Homo sapiens: one gene and its partners. The protein of the gene in region 4 interacts with the protein of the main gene of each other region in a pairwise test. Each region holds a gene or a part of one and is shown on either strand. Other genes may lie near its edges.

What was found.
Region 1: the proteins of MAL (region 4) and TMEM248 interact in binary tests that used the Homo sapiens proteins (3 or more experiments, as listed by UniProt).
Region 2: the proteins of MAL (region 4) and FCRL2 interact in binary tests that used the Homo sapiens proteins (3 or more experiments, as listed by UniProt).
Region 3: the proteins of MAL (region 4) and TMEM106C interact in binary tests that used the Homo sapiens proteins (3 or more experiments, as listed by UniProt).

What each region holds. Positions count from the first base shown.
Region 1 is NC_000007.14:66,938,208-66,945,251, reverse strand, and holds part of TMEM248 (transmembrane protein 248), read right to left. Parts: intron 3,405-7,044; coding exon of another isoform or gene 3,387-3,404; coding exon 3,228-3,386; intron 277-3,227; coding exon 1-276.
Region 2 is NC_000001.11:157,774,089-157,782,096, forward strand, and holds the start of FCRL2 (Fc receptor-like protein 2 isoform 1 precursor), read right to left. Parts: upstream 3,045-8,008; 5' UTR 2,986-3,044; coding exon 2,955-2,985; intron 1,708-2,954; coding exon 1,687-1,707; intron 1-1,686. UniProt on the Homo sapiens protein: May have an regulatory role in normal and neoplastic B cell development.
Region 3 is NC_000012.12:47,966,574-47,969,400, forward strand, and holds the end of TMEM106C (transmembrane protein 106C), read left to right. Parts: intron 1-109; coding exon 110-159; intron 160-634; coding exon 635-688; intron 689-1,559; coding exon 1,560-1,656; 3' UTR 1,657-2,305; downstream 2,306-2,827.
Region 4 is NC_000002.12:95,049,695-95,054,523, forward strand, and holds the end of MAL (myelin and lymphocyte protein), read left to right. Parts: coding exon 1-12; intron 13-3,686; coding exon 3,687-3,761; 3' UTR 3,762-4,298; downstream 4,299-4,829. UniProt on the Homo sapiens protein: May be involved in vesicular trafficking from the Golgi apparatus to the cell membrane. Plays a role in the maintenance of the myelin sheath, and in axon-glia and glia-glia interactions.

The DNA of each region.
Region 1 (7,044 bases), on a different chromosome or scaffold from region 4:
AATCTGATGCCCTAAGATGGTTGAGTACAGATGGGTGACGTTGCGGGAATACCCTCCGAAGGGTTTCAGTGGGTCCAGGGTTAGGGTGATTGAGACTGAGATATTCACCGGGCCCGAGTCCTCCAGGGCCTGGGGGGACTGGGTGGAAGCTCGGGCCTGCCCGCTGGTCATTGTACTTTCCGGAGTTGTGGTGTCGTTTGTGAGATGCTTGAGGGTTTCATTCTCTGATACACACAAGTCCAAATCATTGAACCGTAGCAGAAAAGTATTCCAATCCTTTGGGAAAGTGAAAGAAAGAGAAATGGGTGTTAAGCAGCGCCTGTCTCCCACTGCGGGAATACAGGTAAGACCCCAGTGTGGCACCGCAGCACATCAGCAAACTACAATTCAGAGCTGATCATTTAAGATCATGACAACTCGGCCACCACCCTCTTCACAGGCAGCATGATGTGGCTTTCCTAATCACTTTTATATTCACAACCTAAAATATGAACTCTTCACTGGCACAAGATACTCAATAAACTGTGAAATCAAATCAATTTATTCAAGAAAATCTTTTTAAAAAATCCAGCATATTACACTTAGAGAAAATGATCTAGCCTCAGAACCAAACTTGAAAAGAACGCTTGAAGAAAAGCATTAATCCAAACTCATTTTGCAACTACAATTCTTTTCTTTAAATAAAGTCACCTTAAAATAATGTCCCAAAAGGTCAATTCCATACACCTTGCTCTCTTTCTCTAGAACACAAAACAGCAGTGAATACTAATACTCATTTGGGACACTGCCCCCCTTCTTATGGACTTTTGATGACACCTTAGAGCAGCAACGATTTCAAAAAGGAAGGGGCCAGGTACGGTGGCTCGCACCTGTAATCCCAGCACTTTGGGAGGCCAAGGTGGGTGGATCATTTGAGGTCAGGAGTTCGAGACCAGCCTGAGCAACATGGTGAAACCACGTCTCTACTAAAAATACAATAATTAGCCGGGTGTGGTGGTGTGTGCCTGTAATCCCACCTACTTGGGAGGCTGAGGCAGGAGAATCGCTTGAACCTGGGAGGTGGAGGTTGCAGTGAGAGGAGATCGTGCCACTGCACTCCACCCTGGGCGACACAGTGAGACTCTGTCTCAAAAAAAAAAAAAAAAAAAGCCATCTGAGGCCAGGTACGGTAGTTCACGCCTGTAATCCCAGCACTTTGGGAGGCCAAGCAGGGTGGATCACTTGAGGCCAGGAGTTCGAGACCAGCATGGATAACATGGTGAAACCTTGTCTCTACTAAAAATACAAAAATTAGCTGGACATGGTGGCGCATGCCTGTAATCCCAGCTACTTGGAAGGCTGAGGCACGAAAATCGTTTGAAGGGGGGCAGAGGCTGAAGTGAGCCAAGATCGCGCCACTGAAGTCCAGCCTCAGCCTGGGTGTCAGAGTGACACTCCACCTCAAAAAAAAAAAAAAGTCATCTGAGCAACCCCTACCCAGCCCAGTAAGTCTACCCTTACAGCATCAGTTTAACTGTATGTGACATTTAGTAAGACTGCAACTGGATCTATCAAATTACATTTTCCCTAACACCTACAAACTCAACTGACCATTCTAGTACATTAGGGTTGAAAATGAACATTCTAGTCTCAGTCCTTCATAATCCTAGACATGAAGAAACTGAGGCCCAGGGCAAATTAGGGACTCTCCAATTCTAGTTCAAGGTAAAATCAGCATTAAGTTCTGATTCACAGCCCCAAATGTTTCCCATACACCACTGCCTTTCCTACAACCTAGGATCCTCATTTGAAAACAAAAATCACGAAACTAATCATAACCAAAGTTCCGCAGCATCTCAACAATGCGTTCCTACAGAGCTGGAGTCCACGTTGAACAGCTGGCTAAAGCCAATGCCAGGCCTAATTTGGATTATTAAGGGCTAATTATCCAGGCTTCAGTGCAACCACTGGCCTTGGCCAAGTGCTCAACATGGACTCAAGCTCTGCGGGAAAGAAATGGCAGGAGGCTGTGCAGCTTTAGTTTTGAGTAGAATATTCATTTTCAGCCCTGATGTGGGGGCAGCCTGTTTTCACAACCTTTAAAGATTGAGGCAGGGTCAGAAAAGAGAGAGAATTAAGCCAGCCAGTATGTCTCTTAGTAATAAACTCTTTGAAAGGGTTACATGGTAGAAATAGCTAAAACTCGTTACTTGAACTGTGCTAGAAAGAGCTCACATGTGTAGGCGGTTCCTTTTGCCAAGATCACTTAAGATCTAGAATGCCCTAGAGCATGAGAGAAAGCTACGATCTCAATTACATGGAACACAACTCTCCTCTCCATTGCAAGGCACACTCAATGCGGCAACCACGCACTCCCAGCCCCACTCCCACCCCCACCTCCACCCACCAACAAACCCAAGAAGAAGGAAATAGAATAAGAGAAGGCACCCAAGGAATCTACTAAAAGACAGGAATTAGGCTGGATGCGGTGGCTCACACCGGTAATCCCAGCACTTGGGGAGGCCGAGATGGGTGGATCACCTGAGGTCAGGAGTTCGAGACCAGCCTGGCCAACGTGGCGAAACCCCGTCTCTACTAAAAAGACAAAAATTAGCCAGACGTGGTGGCAGGCACCTGTAATCCCAGCTACTCAGGAGGCTGAGGCAGGAGAATCGCTTGAGCCCGGGAGGTGGAAGTTGCAGTGAGCTGAGAGTACGCCACTGCACTCCAGACTAGGTGACGGAGCGAGACTCCGTCTCAAAAAACAAAAAACAAATATATTTGGAAATTAGGTCCTGTTTTTGAATTTCTTTAGGATTCCTTCTTATCTCATGAAAAAAACCATTAGTATAGCTGATAAAACTCCATGATGATATGTGGTTTTAAAATACCAAATGTTCAGTTTTCTAAAACAGCAATGAACCCATTTGAGATGGAATATTACAGAGGTGAGGTCTCCAGCTTTTTGACACAGATCATTTTACAAATGTACTCTCCAAAGTGCATGTTTCACTGCTAAAATAGTCTAACTGAAACTGGTAGCATATTTAAATCGAACAATACCCATCTAGGTATTTCCTAACAAAGTGAGTCCTGGGGAGATGGAAAACAGAAAATTCTGAATAAATACTGATTTTTCTCACTAGGAGAGAAAGGCCAAAACCCAAGAAAGCTATATGGCAAGCCACAGGGTGTTGCCCCACTGCACAAGGACCAGCCAGCCCGGGAGAAGTCAGAGCATACTATACCTCTGCCATTTCTGGGGATTTAATCTCCTTGATTTTGAAGAAGTAGCCCAGGGTCAGGAAAGCTATGGCCATGGCGCTTACGCTGATCATGAAGACCACCAGGGGAGGCCGACTGCTGATGTACACCTTCAGGTTCTCCAGGGGGTTGATGCTGAACATTATTCTGATCAGCTCCACCTGAAAGAAATGAATCAGAAGCTTCAAGGACTGACTTGCCAACAGGAAAGCTATGATTCTTTTGTTTCCTTTTGAGGTGTTGGGGGGTGAGCTGGGTGGGATGGGCACTCATTACTGAATTTGAGAAATGTCGGATCATAACTTCATTCAAAAGACTAGAAGGAAGAAACACTAAATGTTAACTGCCATTACCTCAAAGTGGCAGGATCCTGAATACATATTCTCTTTCAGTTTGAATCTTCTAAATATTGTGTGTGTGTGTGTGTGTGTGTGTGTGTGTGTGTGTTTTAAGAAACAGGGTCTCTCGTTCTGTCACCCAGGCTAGAGTGCAGTGGCGTGATCATAGCTCACGGCAGCCTTGAACTCCTAGGCTTAAGCTATCCTCCCACCTCAGCCTCCCGAGTAGCCAGGACTAAAGGTGTGTACCACTATGCCCGGCTAATTTTTTTTTTTCTTTTTTTTTTTTTTTGAGACGGAGTCTCACTCTGTGACCCAGGCTGGAGCAATGGTGTAGTCTTGGCTCACTGCAACCTCTGCCTCCTGGGTTCAAGTGATTCTCCCACGTCAGCCTCCCAAGTAGCTGAGACTACAGGCATGTGCCGCCACACCCAGCTAATTTTTGTATTTTTAGTAGAGATGGGGTTTCACCATATTGGCCAGGCTAGTCTCGAACTCCTGACCTCGTAATCTGCCTGCCTTGGCCCCCCAAAGTGCTGGGATTACAGGCGTGAGCCACCGTGCCCGGCTAATTTATTACCTTTTAAGAGATGGGGTCTCGCTATGTTGCCCAGGCTGGTCTTGATCTCCTAGCCTCAAGCAATCCTCCTGCCTCAGCCTCCCAAAGTTCTGGGATTGCAAGTGTGAGTCACCGTACCCAGACTCAATCTTCTAAATATTCTATAATAAATACTGTTACTTCCGTATCACTTAAGAAAAGGTTTAGGTGGGTCAGTAATGTGACACAAATACACAACATGTACAGAAAGAAAGTGAGGATGCTCTCATTTCCTGCCACTGAAAAGCTGAATTCTATTTATTCGACATTCTGTCCTGCTCATTGCCATATGGCTCACAGCCATCCCAGCCCTGCTTAAAAGCTCCTAAGGCTTCTACCAGACCTAGGAGAGGTCGGCAATAGCTCCCTGTCATGGCCCACAGGGTTTTCAGGACTCAGAAGCCCTGCCAGTCTCCCTGACTGCATCACCATCCACTTCCCCTCCTCCCTCCTGGGCTTTGGCCACACTGGACTTGCTATTCTTCAGGATCATCTTGTCAATGTCTGCAAGGAAATCAGCTGGGACTGACAGGGACTGCACTGAATCTGTGGATCGCTTTGGGGAGTGCTGCTCTCTTAACAAACAACGTTGTCTGCTAGTCAAAGAGCCTTGCAGACCTTTCCATCTATTTAGCTTCCTTATTTGAATAATGTTTTCTGTTTTCAGTGTTAACGTTTGCACTTCTTTTATTAAGTTTATTCATAAGTATTTAATGCTTCCTGCCATTTTTGACCATGATGTAGCTGAAGAATTTTGTATCTGCCTGGATGCTTTCCCCAAACATTTCCACGTTTGCTCTTCTTAAAACGCACATCTATGGCTGGGCGCAGTGGCTCATGCTTGTAATCCCAGCACTTTGGGAGGCCGAGGCGGGTGGATCACTTGAGGTCAGGAGTTCGAGACCAGCCTGGCCAACATGGCAAAACCCCGCCTCTACTACAAATACAAAAATTAGCCAGGTATAGTGGTGCACACCTGTAATCCCAGCTACTAGGGAGGCTGAGGCAGGAGAATCACTTGAACCTGGGAGGTGGAGGTTGCAGTAAGACAGGATCACGCCACTGCACTCCAGCCTGAGGGACAGAATGAGACTGTCTCAATTAAAAAAAAAAATGCAAGTCTCTGTTTAATAGCCAGCTCCTCAGAGCACACCTTCCCTGGTCACCCTCAGCCCCTGCTTTATTTCCTTTATATTGTTTAGCATCAACCAAGAGCACAATTATTTTCCTACTTGTTTACTGTTTGTCATCCCTCATTTATGAGCCCAACGAGAGCGGAGATTTTGCACACCTTCCTTGGTCACCCTCAGCCCCTGCTTTATTTCCTTTATATTGTTTAGCATCAACCAAGAGCACAATTATTTTCCTACTTGTTTACTATCTGTCATCCCTCATTTATGAGCCCAGTGAGAGTGGAGATTTTGCCTGTCTTGTTCACAGCTACAGCCCTGGCCCCTGGCCCCTAGAACAGTAGCTGGCACACAATGAGCACTTATAAACACGAGCAAACTGCGACAACATTAGCAAAAAGCAATTTTTTAAAAAGTCTGTATCAGCGTTTAAATTTTAGAGACAAAAAGATGCATCAACAGCCCCTAAAAATCAACAGCAACACATTTTCCATGCCACTTTCACTCAACATTGTTTTTCTGACATCTCTGTTGATCTCTGTTGATCTAGTTCGTTGAATTTCACTGATGTATATATGTAATTGTTCTGTGGTTGAGTTATTCCAGTCTGAGGGGCCTAGCTGGGTTCCTGTTACTGTTTCACCCACCAAGCGCATTGCAACAGGTACAAGAGTGGCTGTAGTACAACAAAGTCACAGAGTAGGGCCTGTCTTCAACCTGATATTGTCAGACCACTCTCCAAGGAGATCAACCAGTTTACACTTCCCCAGCAGTGAAGGAGCCTGCTCCATTCCATGAGATTTGTGCCAACACTTGATTTCCTAAGGCATATTAATATGGTCCAAAAAGACAGATGTGAAATGATATCTCTATTATTTTAAATGGTATCTCCCTGAAACAAAGCATCTTTCCGCTTTTTTAATCAGCCATTTAGGCCCAATCTTAACTGAACTGCCTGAATCCTCTGGTAAGTTACTAATAGGGTGTTAGTCTATTTCTTATTGATGTTTAGAAATTCCTTTTGTGTTTTGGGTACTAAGCCTTTAACAGTTTTATATGTTACGTATAATTAATCCAAGTCTGGGTTTTCTTTAATATGGTTTATGGTATCTTTTGCCATATGAAAGGTTCTTGAGAAGCCAGGCACAGTGGCTCACGCCTGTAATCCCAGCACTTTGGGATGCCAAGGCAGGTGGATCACGAGGTCAGGAGTTCAAGACCAGCCTGGCCAATATGGTGAAACCCCGTCTCTATGAAAAATACAAAAAGTAGCTGGGCATGGTGGCATGTGCCTGTAGTCCCAGCTAGTTGGGAGGCTGAAGCAGGAGAATCAGTTGAACCCGGAGGGCGGAGGTGCAGCAAGTCGAGATCACACCACTGCACTTCAGCTTCGACGATAGAGCGAGACTCCATCTCAAAAGAAAACAAAAAGAAAAGAAAAAGAAAGGTTCTTGATATTTTTAATAGTATTAAGAAATAATTCACATACCATACAATTCACCCATTTAAAGTATACAATTCAATGATTTTTGGTATATTCACTGATTTGAACAACAACCCTCACTATCAATTTTCAAATGTTTTCACTGTCCTATAAAGAAAGCCCAACCTATAACAGATACATAAAAAATAAAAAGAAATTAAAACATACCACCAGAGAAAAATCACCTTCACTAAAATGAAGACAGGAAGGAAGGAAAGAAAGAAGACAAGACCACAAAACAACCAAAAAACA
Region 2 (8,008 bases), on a different chromosome or scaffold from region 4:
AACAGCAAAAACTAAAAGCAAATGGTATTCAAAGCTTTGCAAGGGCAAAGTCCCAGGTGGTGAGTGCAGTGTATGGGTGGGGCTGAAAAGAGGAAATGGGGTGGAAGACTGCATTGAGGCAATGGATGGGGACAGAAAGACCTTTTCAGCTGCTCTGCTGAATAGCATTTTCAAACCTTGCAGGGGATTGTAATTCTCAACAGGCCAGAAACTTTTCCCCAGAGCCAAGACTGGGGTTCAGAGGCCAAGTGACTGCCCAGCCTACATAGCAGGTATATAGCAAAGCCATGATTTCAATTTGGTCTTTCTGGCTATATAAGTCCTGCTCTTTCCAGTACATCATGCTGAACTAAGTTCTCTCTTACTCTTTTTAAAAAGAAAAGATCTCAAACTTCTGAAGAACATCTCAGTTTTCTGAGAAACTCTTGCTAAAGGAAAAGAAAGAGAATGAAGTGGCTGTTGCCCTGTTCTCTGAATGGTCGTAGGTGATTCACTTCAGGGAGCCTGCTGTCTTGGCATGATTCCACTAATGGTCAGAAACCTCCTGAATATTGATCGAGGTTTCCTCTAATTTCCATCCAGACAGACAGTGGAGTGATGGGTATCACAGGGTGGGACTCCTGGACCTTATGTGGGACAGAATGAATGCAAGAGACCAGACTTGCTCCTGAGCAAGTTCCAGGTAGGACCCCTGAATGTCTCCCTGGACACTCTTGTTCCATTCAAGGTGACAGCAGGATCTGCTTTTCCCACACTGTTCCTTAGAGCCCAAAGAGCCCCTTCCACTTGGTAGCCAGCATTCAATGGGCAAGGGAACAAGTCTCCCTTTCTTTAGATTTTGTCTTGGCTCATGTGAAGATTCTGTATATAGAATAAAATATTTTTCCCATTGACTTCCTTCACTGAGCACAGATTTAACTCAGAAAGAGTGAAATAAAATTAGCTTTATTTCACTCTTTATGATTAGAACAGTAATACATGCATTTTTAAAAAATCAAAACTAAATACTAAATCTAGAGCACGGGTTGGCAAATTATGGCCTGTGAGCTGGCCAACACTGTTTTGGTAAATAAAATGTTATTGGAACACAGCCATCCTCATTCGTTTACATATGGTCTATGGTTGTTTTCCTGCTACCACAGCAATGGCATTGAGTAGTTACGGCACACACCTGAAAAGCTTAGCCTATTTACTCTCTTGCCTTTTACAGGAAAAGCTTGCTGATTCCTGAGCTAGAGCTAGAGAAGCAATGAGGACACATGTTTATTCTGACCCTGCAGAAGTTTGTAGTTCTGACACATTCCTCTATAAATAGCTGTTTTCAGAGCTGTAAAAACATTCAGCATTCAGCCAGACAATAAAGAGGCATTACAGTCCTATGGGCAGGAAAACAATTCTCTCCAAATTGTTCTTTTCTTCAATCTGCATGTTATTGCCCTTCTTAAAGCCAGGCTTTTAAGGAAGAGGCAAGCATGTGGGGTCTTGAGAAGGCTAGGTGGTACCTGGTCACCCAGACATGCAAGTGGTGTTGGAAACAGGCTGCGTGACCTCAGAACATGTCAGCCTAGAGGGCAGTAATATTAGGACATCTTCACAGGCTTTCCAGAGCCACCTCTATAGAATCCTGGGGTAGTGGGGTGACTGATATGCCAGAGACCAAGAACAACAAAGACAAGGAGGACTCACCTGCCTGTTCAGTGACTGCATCTGTGAGGAGATCAAAAGCCAGAGATTAGCACACAGCATTTGCCCTCATAATTTATAAATTTATATTACTCTGGTAAATTGCTCAAAAACTTCTTTCCATTTTCCCTTTCTTTTCTATTTCCCTAATCTCTTATTACTAACAATTCAATCTCCCTCGAGCACACATCTAACTGTCATTCATTGTAGTCAAAAGGCAAGTTGCAAACCCAATGCTTGACTAAAGGGATTGTCGAGAATACCCATGTTGGATATTTAGTGACTCTCCTTGATTTCATTTTCCTTCCACCATCCCCACCACTCTATCTCACACTCTGACTTTTCAAGTGGTAGATAGACATGACAACACGATCACAAAGGGCTCATCAGGAAACATACATTGTGAGAGTTCCAAGAAATCAACAAATCAGTCTCTTTCCTATGGCCATATTTCACGTTAGAGCCCTTTGTATTCCAATAACAAATATTTATTTAGTGCCTACACAGCATAGAGAAAGGGATCTTATTTACTCTCTCACCCAGGCTGGAGTACAATGGTGCGATCTTGGCTCACCACAACCTCCACCTCCCGGGTTCAAGCAATTCTCCTGCCTCAGCTTCCCGAGTAGCTGGAATTACAGGTGCCCACCACCACGCCTGGCTAATTTTTGTATTTTTAGTAGAGATGAGGTTTCACCATGTTGGCCGGGGTGGTCTCGAACTCTGACCTCAAGTGATCCACCAGCCTTGGACTCCCAAAGTGCTAGGATTACAGGTATGAGCCACTGCACTCACCCAGGAATCTTATTTTCTAGCAGCAGCTGTCATCTCCCTCATTGTCCACGATTAAACAGAGGAATATTAGCAAAGGGTCTCAATGCATCTGCTGAACCCAAATCTTATAGATAACAATTGAATAATCGGTGTTCATGGAGGAGAAGGGCATTGCTAAATGCTAATATTATGAACATTTTACTATGAGAACATTATATTACTCAATGAGATCTAAGATATCAAAATAGCAATTCATGACCAGCAAATGGAAAAGTGGTCCACCTTGAACATTAAGCATTGTGCTTAATGCTTAATGGATGTGCTGCAAATTCACTGTCCTCAGCCTACTTCTTTGCATCTGCCTTTGAAGCCCAAGCTGCAGGCAGGACCTGAGCATCCCCACCAGTCCCTGGGCTCCAATAAAACCTCCAACCTTTTGGGAGCAGTAGACCTCATTCAGCTGCCACCTCACTTCTCAGTCAAATTATTGAACTCACCAAAGATGACCAGCAATGACCACAGCAGCATGAGGACCTAATCCAGCTATTTGAAAAGAGATGTACTCTTGGTCACCAACTGGAGACTCTGAGCAGGCGATGAAATGTGGTTTTCAGAATAGGTTTTGTATAATTAGCAAAAAAGGAAGTAGAATAGTGCCACTATGTTTAACCATTATCTTTGTCCTGGAAGGGCTAAAACAATTATAGCTGATCCTCTCAATGCCAGAGAAATTTTGTAACTTGACCCTCATTATGATACCTAGCATTTACATATGGGTTGCAATGAGTCAGACACAGTTCTAAGTGCCTCATGCTTACAGAGTTATTTATTACCTTCAGCAAGTTTCTGAATTGGCACTATCCCCTTTCACATGAATAAGGAAATTGAGGCACTAGTAAAGGTAAGTGTCTTAGTCCATTGGGGCTGCTATAAAGAATACCTTAGACTGAGAAATTTATAAACAACATAAATTTATCACTCATAGTTCAAGAGGCTGGGAAGTTTAAGATCAAGGCACCAGTAGATTCAGTGTCTGATGAGGGCCTGTTTCTCATAGATGGTGTCCTCTATGTGTCTTCACATGATGGAAGGAGCAAACAAGCTCCCTCAAGCCTCTTTTACAAGGAGACTAATCCTTTTCATAAGAGTTCCACACTCATGACCCCTAAAAGGTCATGTAATAAAAGGTGGGTACCTTTTATTACTATTGCATTGAGGATTAAGTATCAACATAAGAATTTTGCCAGGACACAAACATTCAGATGATAGCAGCCAGTAAAATGACCAAGATCAGCTTAATCAATTTCTAGTAGTAACAGATCTGGGATTCAAACCCAGGCAGCCCAGTGTCACAGTCTGGCTCTTAAACATTGTGCCCTATTATCTTGATATATTGCTTCTCAAGGTTCATAAAATAATAAGGCCATTGTTTCAATAGCTCATATTTCTTAAGTAAAATTTTTCGTAGTCATTCGATGACTTTCTAGAATGAGATTTTACTAAACTTCAAAACACTTGCACTATATTGCTGAAAACATTGCCATCTTTCTAATCTGTAATCACAACATTGCCTATTTCTAATCTGCATTGCTTTTTGTACCCCAGGCTGATCCTAATACAGTTATCTCACACAAAGCAAAGCGCGTGTTATGTGAACACCTATTATCATGCTCACTTTGATTAGATGTAGTCCCAGTAGATGTTGTCTCATCAGTGAACCTTATGCAGGATGAAACTCTAAACCAAAAAATCACAGGTGCTTATAAATGAGGGACTGACTGAAAATATTCATAGACTCAATGTTACCTGTTCAGGTACTTAACATTTACCTGAATACTTAACATTGAATTTTTAACAATTGGATACTTAACATTTTATTCTCACTATTATCATAGTTTTACTTTGAGAAAGGCTAATATTTATATGTGATGGTCATTAAAGCCTTGCTTATAATAATGTAAAAAGAAAATACTAAAAATATATCACAAGGAGAGATGTGTGTTAAAAATAAGTTATGTGTCAAATGCTGTGGAAAACCAAACAGCCATTAAAATAATTCTGTGGAATAATATTTAATAGCAAGATAAGATGTCTAGGATATATGATTAAGAAAAAAGTGGGCTGGGTGCGGTGGCTCACGCCTGTAATCTCAGCACTTTGGGAGGCTGAGGCGGGCGGATCACGAGGTCAGGAGATCAAGACCATCCTGGCTAACACGGTGAAACCCCATCTCAACTAAAAATACAAAAAATTAGCCGGGCGTGGTGGCAGGTGCCTGTAGTCCCAGCTGTTTGGGAGGCTGAGGCAGGAGAATGGTACAAACCCGGGAGGCAGAGCTTGCAGTGAGCCGAGATCGTGCCACTGCACTCCAGCTTGGGTGACAGAGCAAGACTCCGTCTCAAAAAAAAAAAAGAAAAGAAAAGAAAAGAAAAAAGTGGCTGCAGAGTGCACTTTATCTGCTGCACATTATCCCCTGCTCTCCAATAAAAAGTGTCTGAGACAATTCGCACCACAGAGTTACTGTAATTATATCCAAAAAATCTAATTAAAGCTGATTTTTATTTTCCTTATTTTGCTTATCTGTGTATTCTAGTATTCTTACAATAAACATATGCTATTTACGTACTTTTTAAAGATTCATTATAAGAAACTAGGTTTTATGGCCTCTCTCATCTTAAAGTGTTGAAAACAATACTACTTTAACTTTCTGCATAGGCAAACGGTTTGTATGTGTTTGAAAGTGTAAGTTACTCTTTCCCAGGACCAAAGCTAGTCACTGATCATCAAATCTTGCCTACTGAATGGGTTTCTAGGTGGCCTATAATTCCTTCCCATTCTGACCAACCTGGAAGCTATAGAAATTTTGTGGATGGGAGGGAATTAAGGAAAGGAGTACAAATAGGATCATGAAAAAGTTGATGGTAAATTGATGGTAGGTACAAGTTTTTCATAGACATCAAGGAGATTTTTCAAAATAATCCATATCCCTTCACTGATTTCTATATACCCTCTATGGAAATGTGGCCTCTTCAGTTAAGAATCAATATTTCTTAAGGTGTTACCAAATGATATGAGGTAAAATTCACAGTTGGTATAAAAGGTGCAGGTGGAAAGCAGCAGTAATGAGGTGTGTGGGCCACAGAGGTGGCAACAAATCCTCTAAGATGGCTAACATGTTTCATGTGGGTGCTACTCTGTATTTGACAGACGGCAGTAATTTACAAGTGAATAGGCATATCCTGGAAGCGTAGCTAAACTTGAATGCACAGTAGGCACTGTGACCAGAGATTAAGAGGCTTAATAGACACTTGGTGGGGGGTGGGGAAAGTAACTTAAAAATTAAGGCAATAGTGGCAGAAATAAAATTATGTTTGTAGGTTTGATCAAAGTGAGAGATAATACTTTTTGTGCAAGGATATTTTGCCACCAACAGGATGGAGTCACAGGTATCAGAAAGAACCAGCATTAGACATACATATAAATGCCTCTTGGATCAACCAGGTAAACCCTTAACATGGAGATTCCACAGGTGGTAACATACTGAAGCCTATTTTGCCAGATGCAGAGCAAGAGTCATCTCTGTGAACCGTGTTCAATGTCTTGAATGGAATACAAAATACAGTGCCAAGTTGGGGCATGCCAGAACTGAGACAGAGACAAATAGAGTCTTCATAAAATATGTCAGAATAAAACAAATCACACTTCCTGCTTGATGAATTTGATTACTAGGACAGTTAGAGTGGGAAAATAAGAAAATGAAACAGGCTAACTTCCAAGATCCCTAGATATAATCTTTTGAGCTTGGGGTTCCAAGGTCACTATGAGAGAATTAAATGTCATAATATATATAAATTACTTGTCATAATAATTGCTACATAAATGGCAGTAGAAGTAGTCATAGTCATGGTCATCATCATTGTTATGGCAGTAGTGGTAGTAGCAGTTTTAATAATTACAATAATTACCTTGAGCAGCATGATATGTCTTTGTTGAGTGGGGCTTTCCCTAATAACTTCCTGTCCAAGATAGTAACTAGATACTTTCCGAGTTCTATGGAGGTGATGTTGTTTGTTGAAGAACTTCTGGGACAGAACTGGCTAGACCAAATGTTGTCTATGCAGACACTCTCCAATGTAATTTAGACAGAGCCAGGCCCTTCTGCCCAGAAGATTTTTTACAATTAAATTTATTATATCTAGAAGTCCAGTAGGGCTCTGCATGGAGCAAATAGCATGAAAGAGAATTCAGAATGGGTATAAATGCTTGGAAGCTAGTGGTCATTACCTCCATGGAAGATAATGAAGATAGTGAAAGCCCAGAGAATCAGAGAAGGCCAAGAGTAAGTTGAAGTTTTAGATAGTGTATCTCTAGGGGACTGGAGTTTAACAAAGTTCGATTTTTTCCTTCGTCATGAAGATTATCAGTTCCTTTAGTAGCAATGGAAACTATGGTAAATCCTTACTAAAGAAGGTATTACTATTCCTACAGTGGAGGTGGAGGGGAACCCAGCCTTGGTGTCTGAGGGGAGGCAGAGAGGCAGAAAGACTTAGGGAGGCTCATAGAAGACATCAGAGCAGCACCTGTGGTGGTGAGCAGTCTTCTCTCCGTGTATGAAAATACTTCCTGGCAAGTTGCCTGGGTTCCATGAGAACAACAGGTGGGGAGGGATGTCTAGAGGTCAAATTCAGTTCAAAGCTTTCTGCTTCCTGTTTTAATTGTATATGTGTGGGTTTTCCAGAAGGTGGATGGGTTATGACTTTTCAGGCCAAGGGGAGCTGTGAACCATGGGTCATCAACTACACCAACCGTTAGTAGAATCACCCACAGCAGCTTTCTGTGGGTGTCTTTCTGGCAGGCTGGTGAGTATCAGTTGTAGTAGAAGAAAAAAGCAAGAACCAAGATCGAGATTACACTGATGGCTTTCTGTCTTGTTTTACCATGCTTTTTTTTTTTTTTTTTTGCTCACTCTTCTAACACACTCTGCTAATAACTTTTTCACAGTTCATAAAGATATGATTCCCAAGCAGAATCATTATTCATTCAGTCATTAATTCATGCATGCATGAAGCCATGCATTCAGTTACTCAGTGGAGTTTTATTCAATGCCCCTGCTTGATGGGCAATACACTTGGCACTAGACATACCCAGATAAAAAGATATGGTCCCTGCCCTGATGGAAATTGCATTCTAGCATCAGAAGACTAATAGAAAAGAGTAAACATACTTGTGTCCCACTGCTGTGGTGGAGCTCTGTACAGCATGTGAATGGACACAGTGGAGATTAAGGAGTAAAGGCTTCCAGAAGAAATGAATATTGAGAGATAGGTAGGTTTCAATCAAGCAAATAAGACTTAGGAAGATGGAGAAGTTCCAGGCCTAGAAAGCATCAGGAGCATGGTAAGAGGTCAGGGACCCATTCGGGCTGCTCAGGTATCCACAGGCACTTTAGAATGGCAGATCCAAAGGTATGAGGAAGAGCATCACAAGAGGTAAGGCCCAAAAGTGGGAAGGTGGGAAAATCTTTATATTTTCATAGGGTGGAGGAGACACC
Region 3 (2,827 bases), on a different chromosome or scaffold from region 4:
ATTTTGCATGTGATGGAAGAATGACCCAAGGTCTTTGGATTGCTAATAATAATACTGTTCTGTGTCAAGCCTGCTTGGCCACAGACCAACTCTGGTATCTTATTTTCAGGTGAATTTTACCGGGAAGGCCGAGATGGGAGGACCGTTTTCCTATGTGTAGTAAGGACACTGTTCTCTCTGTGTGTGCTCTCTACTGGAGGAAAGGGATTCAAAGTCATACTCCATTGATTGGGGCCTGGTCCTGCCTTAGATCTCAGCTTTTGACTTATAGGTTCCCTGGCTTTGGATGTCTTGAGATTTATTTGAAGAATGTATTATTATTATGTGTGTATTTGAAGAATGTATTATTTGATATGTGACAGAAGTGCTGGAATTTCTAAAAGAGAACATTAAGCCACTAAAAACGTTACCAAGCTCCAGCACTTATGTGATGGGTTTGAAAAAACAGAAAGTGGTATGACGCTGTGGGAGGATGAAAATGACAGTGGCAGGGACTGAGAGCTGACAAGCCTTGGCAGCACTTAGGTCGGAAGGGGGAGGGGGGCACCCCAAACAGGACAGTGTAACTCTGCACTCTTCTACTGAGGCTTTAAAAAAAAAAAAACTGACTATTTCCATATTTGCTGTTTGGTAGCTTCTTCTGCACGGTACCTGAGATCCTGGTGCACAACATAGTGATCTTCATGCGGTGCGTCTCTCTTCCCTATCCCGATGGCCTGTCCGGCCATGTGAGCCTACCACCTTTGCTCAGGAGGCCCCTGTGTGACCACAGGGCAGAGGCACCTAGCCCGAGGGGACACCCTGTGCCTCACAGGCACAGATACAGTAGACCCTTGGTGTTCTCTAAACACAGTGTCCACATGCCCTTCACAAATCACCAGTCACCCTGAGCAGTCAAACATTTTCTCCATAAAATGGGTCTAGTTTAACTAAACACTTGATCCCCTCAGAATCCTAATGAGACAGTCATGAACAGAAAAGCTTTCTCAAGATGTTAAGTACTGGGCATTTGACCAGACTTCCTCTCTAGCCACACAAATTACCACATGTCATGGACCTTTAGGGTTGTTTTCTGGAAGCATGGCTGTTAAATTTGCAAGTGACAAGACTCTGCTGCAGACATGAAATATGAGGGGTTAGAGCAGAGTTTCTCAGCCTTGGCACTACGAACATTTTGGGCCAGACCTTTGTTGTAGGGGGCTGTTCTGTGCATTATAGGATGTTTAACAGTATTCCTGGCATCTGCCCACTAGATCCCAGTAGTAAACCCTCCATCCCTTAGTTGTGACAACCCAGAATGTCTTCAGGCATTGCCAGAAGTCTCCTGTGGGGTAAAATCATTCTCGATTGAGAAGCCTTGTTTGGAAGGCCACCTCCTGGCACAGTATCTCTGTGAAAGTGGAAAGATCTTCTGGCCTCCTGGTTACATAACCATGAGGATATGTGCCTGGGGCCCGTGGGTATTGTTCTCTGAACTTGCAAAAAATTTCCTGGGACATTTTTCTGGCTTATTTCATCCCCCAAACATAATTAATTCTTCTTGGTTTTCTTTTCCCTAGAACTTCAGTGAAGATTTCATACATTGGCCTCATGACCCAGAGCTCCTTGGAGACACATCACTATGTGGATTGTGGAGGAAATTCCACAGCTATTTAACAACTGCTATTGGTTCTTCCACACAGCGCCTGTAGAAGAGAGCACAGCATATGTTCCCAAGGCCTGAGTTCTGGACCTACCCCCACGTGGTGTAAGCAGAGGAGGAATTGGTTCACTTAACTCCCAGCAAACATCCTCCTGCCACTTAGGAGGAAACACCTCCCTATGGTACCATTTATGTTTCTCAGAACCAGCAGAATCAGTGCCTAGCCTGTGCCCAGCAAATAGTTGGCACTCAATAAAGATTTGCAGAATTTAATACAGATCTTTTCAGCTGTTCTTAGGGCATTATAAATGGAAATCATAACGTGGTTCTAGGTTATCAAACCATGGAGTGATGTGGAGCTAGGATTGTGAGTGACCTGCAGGCCATTATCAGTGCCTCATCTGTGCAGAAGTGGCAGCAGAGAGGGACCATCCAAATACCTAAGAGAAAACAGACCTAGTCAGGATATGAATTTGTTTCAGCTGTTCCCAAAGGCCTGGGAGCTTTTTGAAAAGAAAGAAAAAAGTGTGTTGGCTTTTTTTTTTTTTAGAAAGTTAGAATTGTTTTTACCAAGAGTCTATGTGGGGCTTGATTCACCCTTCATCCATTGGCTGGAACATGGATTGGGGATTTGATAGAAAAATAAACCCTGCTTTTGATTCATCTGTGTCTCCTCTGATTGCCTGGGTGTTTTGTAGGGATCTCTGGGGGAACCGTAGAATAGTTCCCTTCCAAGTGGGTCAGGATGGAATAGGAGGAAAGAGACTGCACCCTGATTGTACTCCCGTTCCCATGAGTTCCTGTCACAGCAAGCAGCCTCATTTTCTTCCATCTGCCTCTTGCGGCAGGGGGCTACCCTGTTCCCTTCCAGGACAGAGCACTCAGTGCCCCATGGAGGTTGGAATTCAGTCTTGAATAAGACATCCTGGTTTGAGGTTGTAAGTTTCTTGGGTCATCTCCACCTGCTCTGCCACCAGAGGTTAGGCTACAGCCCCAGGATGGCAGAGAATCTAGTTAAGAAGCTTGAGTAGTCAGGTGTTAGAAGTCAGCTCTTCCCATAGCACTGGGACCTCAGGAAACCCTAACAACAACAGGTGGTGGCTGGGGTTGTATATTAGTTTTTGTCTCCATTCCCATAGCTTGGTTTTCAATATTTGCTTAATGATCTGTATAGTCTTGAATCTT
Region 4 (4,829 bases):
ATTGCTGCCGTGGTGAGTCCGGGCACCTGGGGCTGTGTCCACAGCGGGCGGCTCCGTGGCTGGCAGGGTGTGTGTGGAGGCTGCCTAGGCCCTTGGTCTGTTTTCAGTTCACTAACTTTTGAGTGAGGTCAAACCTTGCCTTCATGCCTGGAGCAGGAAAGCCCCCGAGAAGGGCAGTGTCATGTTGTGCCCAAGACTCCGCTTAGTCGTCCGGCCAGGGCTGCATGCCCCAGGCCTGCGTGGGCTTTGCAGAGGGCAGATGTGTGAGGGGATGCGGCTGCCCAGCGCCCTGTCCGAGTGCTCCCTGAACAATCTTATTTAACATCCATGGCAACCCTACAACCCAGGATTATGACACCCATCTCACAGATGGAGAAGTGGGGCCAGAGAGTGTGACTGGCCCAAGATCACCAGTCATTGTGGGACCTGGCATCAACGCTGGAGGCCCAGTCCCCACACTCTCAGCACCAGTTTGGGGCTGTGAGTCTGACCTCATGGGTCTCCTGACTCTCCCCAAGTGGTCGTCCATTGAAGCATCCAGCCAGGGGTGGGGACGCTGAGGCCAGGTGGATTTTCTTCTTAATGGACTGGATCAGAATGACAGGGTAACAGAATATATTGTTTCATCACATGTTTTTCAGAGCTGTGCATGTGTGCCCTTGCACCAGTCTACGATATAAAACATGCTTCTGACCATGGGTATTGTTAAAAAGTAAGAAGTTTCAGAAAGAGCACTCTTCAGATCTCTAGAACTTAACCTATGAATTATGCAAATCCCAAGGTAGAATGTGGTGACAGATCCTGAGATACCAGCTCTAGTAGCCAAAGCTGTGTCATCCCCTCTTTTTGGAAAGTGTAGGGCAGAGGCTGAGAGAAGACCCACAGATAGGCTTTAGAAATGGGGTTGGTGAAGTGCCTCTTCCCACTCCCAGAAGGAGGGCCCCAGGGGAAAATCCCTCAAAGCCTCACTTGCTGGTCCCCTTGCACAGTCCCCTGCCCTGGGGAAACCACACACTGCCCTCAAGCTCCCAGCCTACAATCGCTCCCCTAAAAAGGGCCCCCTCAGGATCCTGGCATCCCCCCAGGGGTCCCGCGGTGTGGAAACATCTCCCGTGTTGGCCCATCTCCCAACATGGCTGGTTTCCAAGCAGCAGCACAGCCAGGGGGCATCTTGACTGATCTTCCTTCCTGGGGAGGCTGGTGAGCCACCCTCCATCTTCTTCACACAATTCCATCTCATCTCCCTCTCCCAAGACTGCCTCATACCTCCCCCATCCCAGCCAAGCCTTCTCTTTTAACAAACATCAACAAAGTGTCTGACAATAATTTCCATAAAATTGTTGTGAACAAAGGTTGCGAAATGTAGATGGGATGTGGTTAGTGGGTCAGCACTTGATGGAAAAACCCAGCTAGGGGAATGAACACCCCTTCCCGCTGGGCAGGTCTCTAGTTGAGAACCACTAGGCTCTACTGCCTTCTGACTTTCCTCTTTTACCTTTTATCAAAGGCAGCACACAGCCAGAGAGGTGTGCAGTTACAAGCCCACAGCTTGATGGATTTCATACAGCGAACTCCCTGTGTGGATGGTGTCTGGACTAAGAATTAGGGCCAGTTACCAGCGCACAGTCTGATGAATTCTCATAGAGCAAACTCCCCAGTGTAGTTGGCATCTGGACTAAGAATTAGGGCCTGATAAACAACTCCCAGAAATCCCCTCAAGTCCTGTCCCCATCACTGTGCACCCCCACCACCACCCAATTCTGATTTCTAGCACCATGTTCAGTTTTGCCTGCCTTTGAACTTCATATAAGTGGAATTATACAGTGGGTACTCATGTGTGGCTTCTTTCTCTCACCCTTGTGTTTGTGAGACTCACCCAAGTGGCTGGGTGTAGATGTGGGTTGTTTGTTCTCATTACTGTATAGTATTCCCTTGTAGGAATAGACCAACATCTATTTATCCATCCCATGACTGACCATGTTCCCATTTTTTTTTAGTTGAGTTGGATAGACACGAATATGTTCACGCAGACAGGAGCGTTAGAATTGAGAACCAGAGTGTTCTCAGCTGGCAGATGTGCCCAGATAAAACCACCAAGGGGAAATCTGCACGGCGTTCGATGTAAAGTCACACCTTTCAACTCACGGTATCAACTGCATCCGTCTGTGAGAGAGAAAGAAGTTCGTTACTCAGGATTCAATCCCAGACCCGCCCAACCACAGCATGCCCAGTCCAGGGGATACTTGGGTACAGGGAGGCACCTCACACCCTCTCTCACACAGCCTGGTTTTGGAAGCAGCCAGCCTGCCTCACATCCACTGTGTGGCTACTAATTAGGGTCTGTTCCAAGCTGAGCTCCTCCCTCTCTCCTTTGTGGGTGGCGGAGCTGCTTTGCCAAAGGGACCCCAGGGATGGGTGGAAGTCGCCTGGGGCGAGATGGAAATTTCTGGAGAAATCTGGAGGTTTCTAGATTATACAATGGTGGGCAGTGATGGCTACAGTTTAGGGAGAGGGCTTTCTGAAGCCAAAATTTGCCCATTCGTGCCCAGCTCTACGTGTTCCCAGTGGGCCATTTCTTGACCCCACTTGGAAAATGAGTCTCCACTGCTCTTCCTGCTGGGGACTTCCAAGGTGCTTCTGCCAAAGGCTTTCATTGGTCTGGAATGCCCACCTTTTATGGAGGGCTGCCCACTGGTGTCTGACTGCTCCTGCCCAGATACGTTCTCTTAAATGTGTTATTCAATAATTCAGCTTACTCACCGCCTCCAGGCAATGAGGGAAAGGGCTTGGCCAGGTGTAGGGGCAGGAGAGCAGGCACCCTGAGGGCTGGGATTGATGAGCATTTTCAGGAGTCACAGAGGCGTAGCCGCCCTAAATGGACGTCGTGCCTGAGCTGGAAACTCTTGACCCCTAACCAAGGTCACAAAACCAGGTGCAGAGATTGGACTTGGCAGCAGGCAGGCCTTCAGGGAGTAGGGTGATGGGAGCAGACAGTGCCCAGGAGGACACAGCAAGTCCCCAGAAAGCAGGGCCATCGCTCCAAGGGCCACAGTGGCTGACTGGATGGTCCCAACAGTAAGGCCCCTCCTTTAGACAAAAGCTCAAAATCCCTTCTCCCCTTCTCTGTCCCTCACTTCCTATGAAGTCTGGCTCTCTCAGCCACACCTGTGATATTAAGAATCCTAAAACAAAATAATGATAGGGTGAGAATGTCCAGGCAGCATGGAGACTTTCACCAGGGCCAGCAAACCCAGGTATTTACAATCTCTCAACCGAGCTACCAGGACCACAGCTGGAGGGCGCTGGTCTCACTGGTGTTGGGGGAGGAAGTTGTCCCTGGAGAGTTACCTGCCTGAGATGCTTTCATTGGAGGGGTCTTTGAGGACTCCATCTCAAGTCAGCCGAAACCTCAAGCTGAGACGAATGTGATGCTGGGTGATAGTGGAGAGTCTTACCTTCCACACCAGATCCAGGAGACTGTTAGGTCACATGGAGCTCTGTACTGAGAGGATTTGGTGCACACCTGGGCTCAGCAGGGAGGGCGTCCATGTGAGGGTGAGAAGCAATGACAGCCCAAGCTCTCTGGGTCTGGCCCCCCCTACGCCACGTGGGGCTGGATGCAGTGCAGACGCTGTGCCTCGCCCTCCCTACACAAACCCATTAACGGCCATTTCTCTTGGTTCCAGGTGTTCTCCTACATAGCCACTCTGCTCTACGTGGTCCATGCGGTGTTCTCTTTAATCAGATGGAAGTCTTCATAAAGCCGCAGTAGAACTTGAGCTGAAAACCCAGATGGTGTTAACTGGCCGCCCCACTTTCCGGCATAACTTTTTAGAAAACAGAAATGCCCTTGATGGTGGAAAAAAGAAAACAACCACCCCCCCACTGCCCAAAAAAAAAAGCCCTGCCCTGTTGCTCGTGGGTGCTGTGTTTACTCTCCCGTGTGCCTTCGCGTCCGGGTTGGGAGCTTGCTGTGTCTAACCTCCAACTGCTGTGCTGTCTGCTAGGGTCACCTCCTGTTTGTGAAAGGGGACCTTCTTGTTCGGGGGTGGGAAGTGGCGACCGTGACCTGAGAAGGAAAGAAAGATCCTCTGCTGACCCCTGGAGCAGCTCTCGAGAACTACCTGTTGGTATTGTCCACAAGCTCTCCCGAGCGCCCCATCTTGTGCCATGTTTTAAGTCTTCATGGATGTTCTGCATGTCATGGGGACTAAAACTCACCCAACAGATCTTTCCAGAGGTCCATGGTGGAAGACGATAACCCTGTGAAATACTTTATAAAATGTCTTAATGTTCAATACATTTGTTGGGTGTTTTTTGGGTTTGGGTTGAATTCCTCAGCATCAAGAATACCATCAATTCAGCTTTCTTTCTGAGGAATCCTTTGACTTAACCTGAATCTCAAGAGACAGCATCAGGTGGCAGTTCAGACGACGGACACTGTGTGTGCCAGGCCACTGCACTCTCAGAGCCCGGTGCTGGGGAGCCCACCCTCCCAGCTACCTGCCCAGATGGCTTCCCCTCTCTCTGGAAACTGGCCAAGTGCCAGCCAGGGGCAGCTTCTCCTTCCTACAAGACACAACAGTCTGTGCCCCACTAGAACCTCCTTCCACCAAAAGAAAACACGGTGCACAAGTTTTCATTCACTCATTGTGAAGCTCATCAGCGTGTTCCTGGGCAGTCTGCTTTGTTCCCATTGTGTGGATAATACATTATTTTAGAATTTCCTCGGGCCACTCCATAGGAGAGAAAGGAGAGGAAATTACAGAGTGAAAGGAAGTACGGTGACAAGGGGTGAATGCCATGTTTCAAGTCTGAGATGTCTGGGT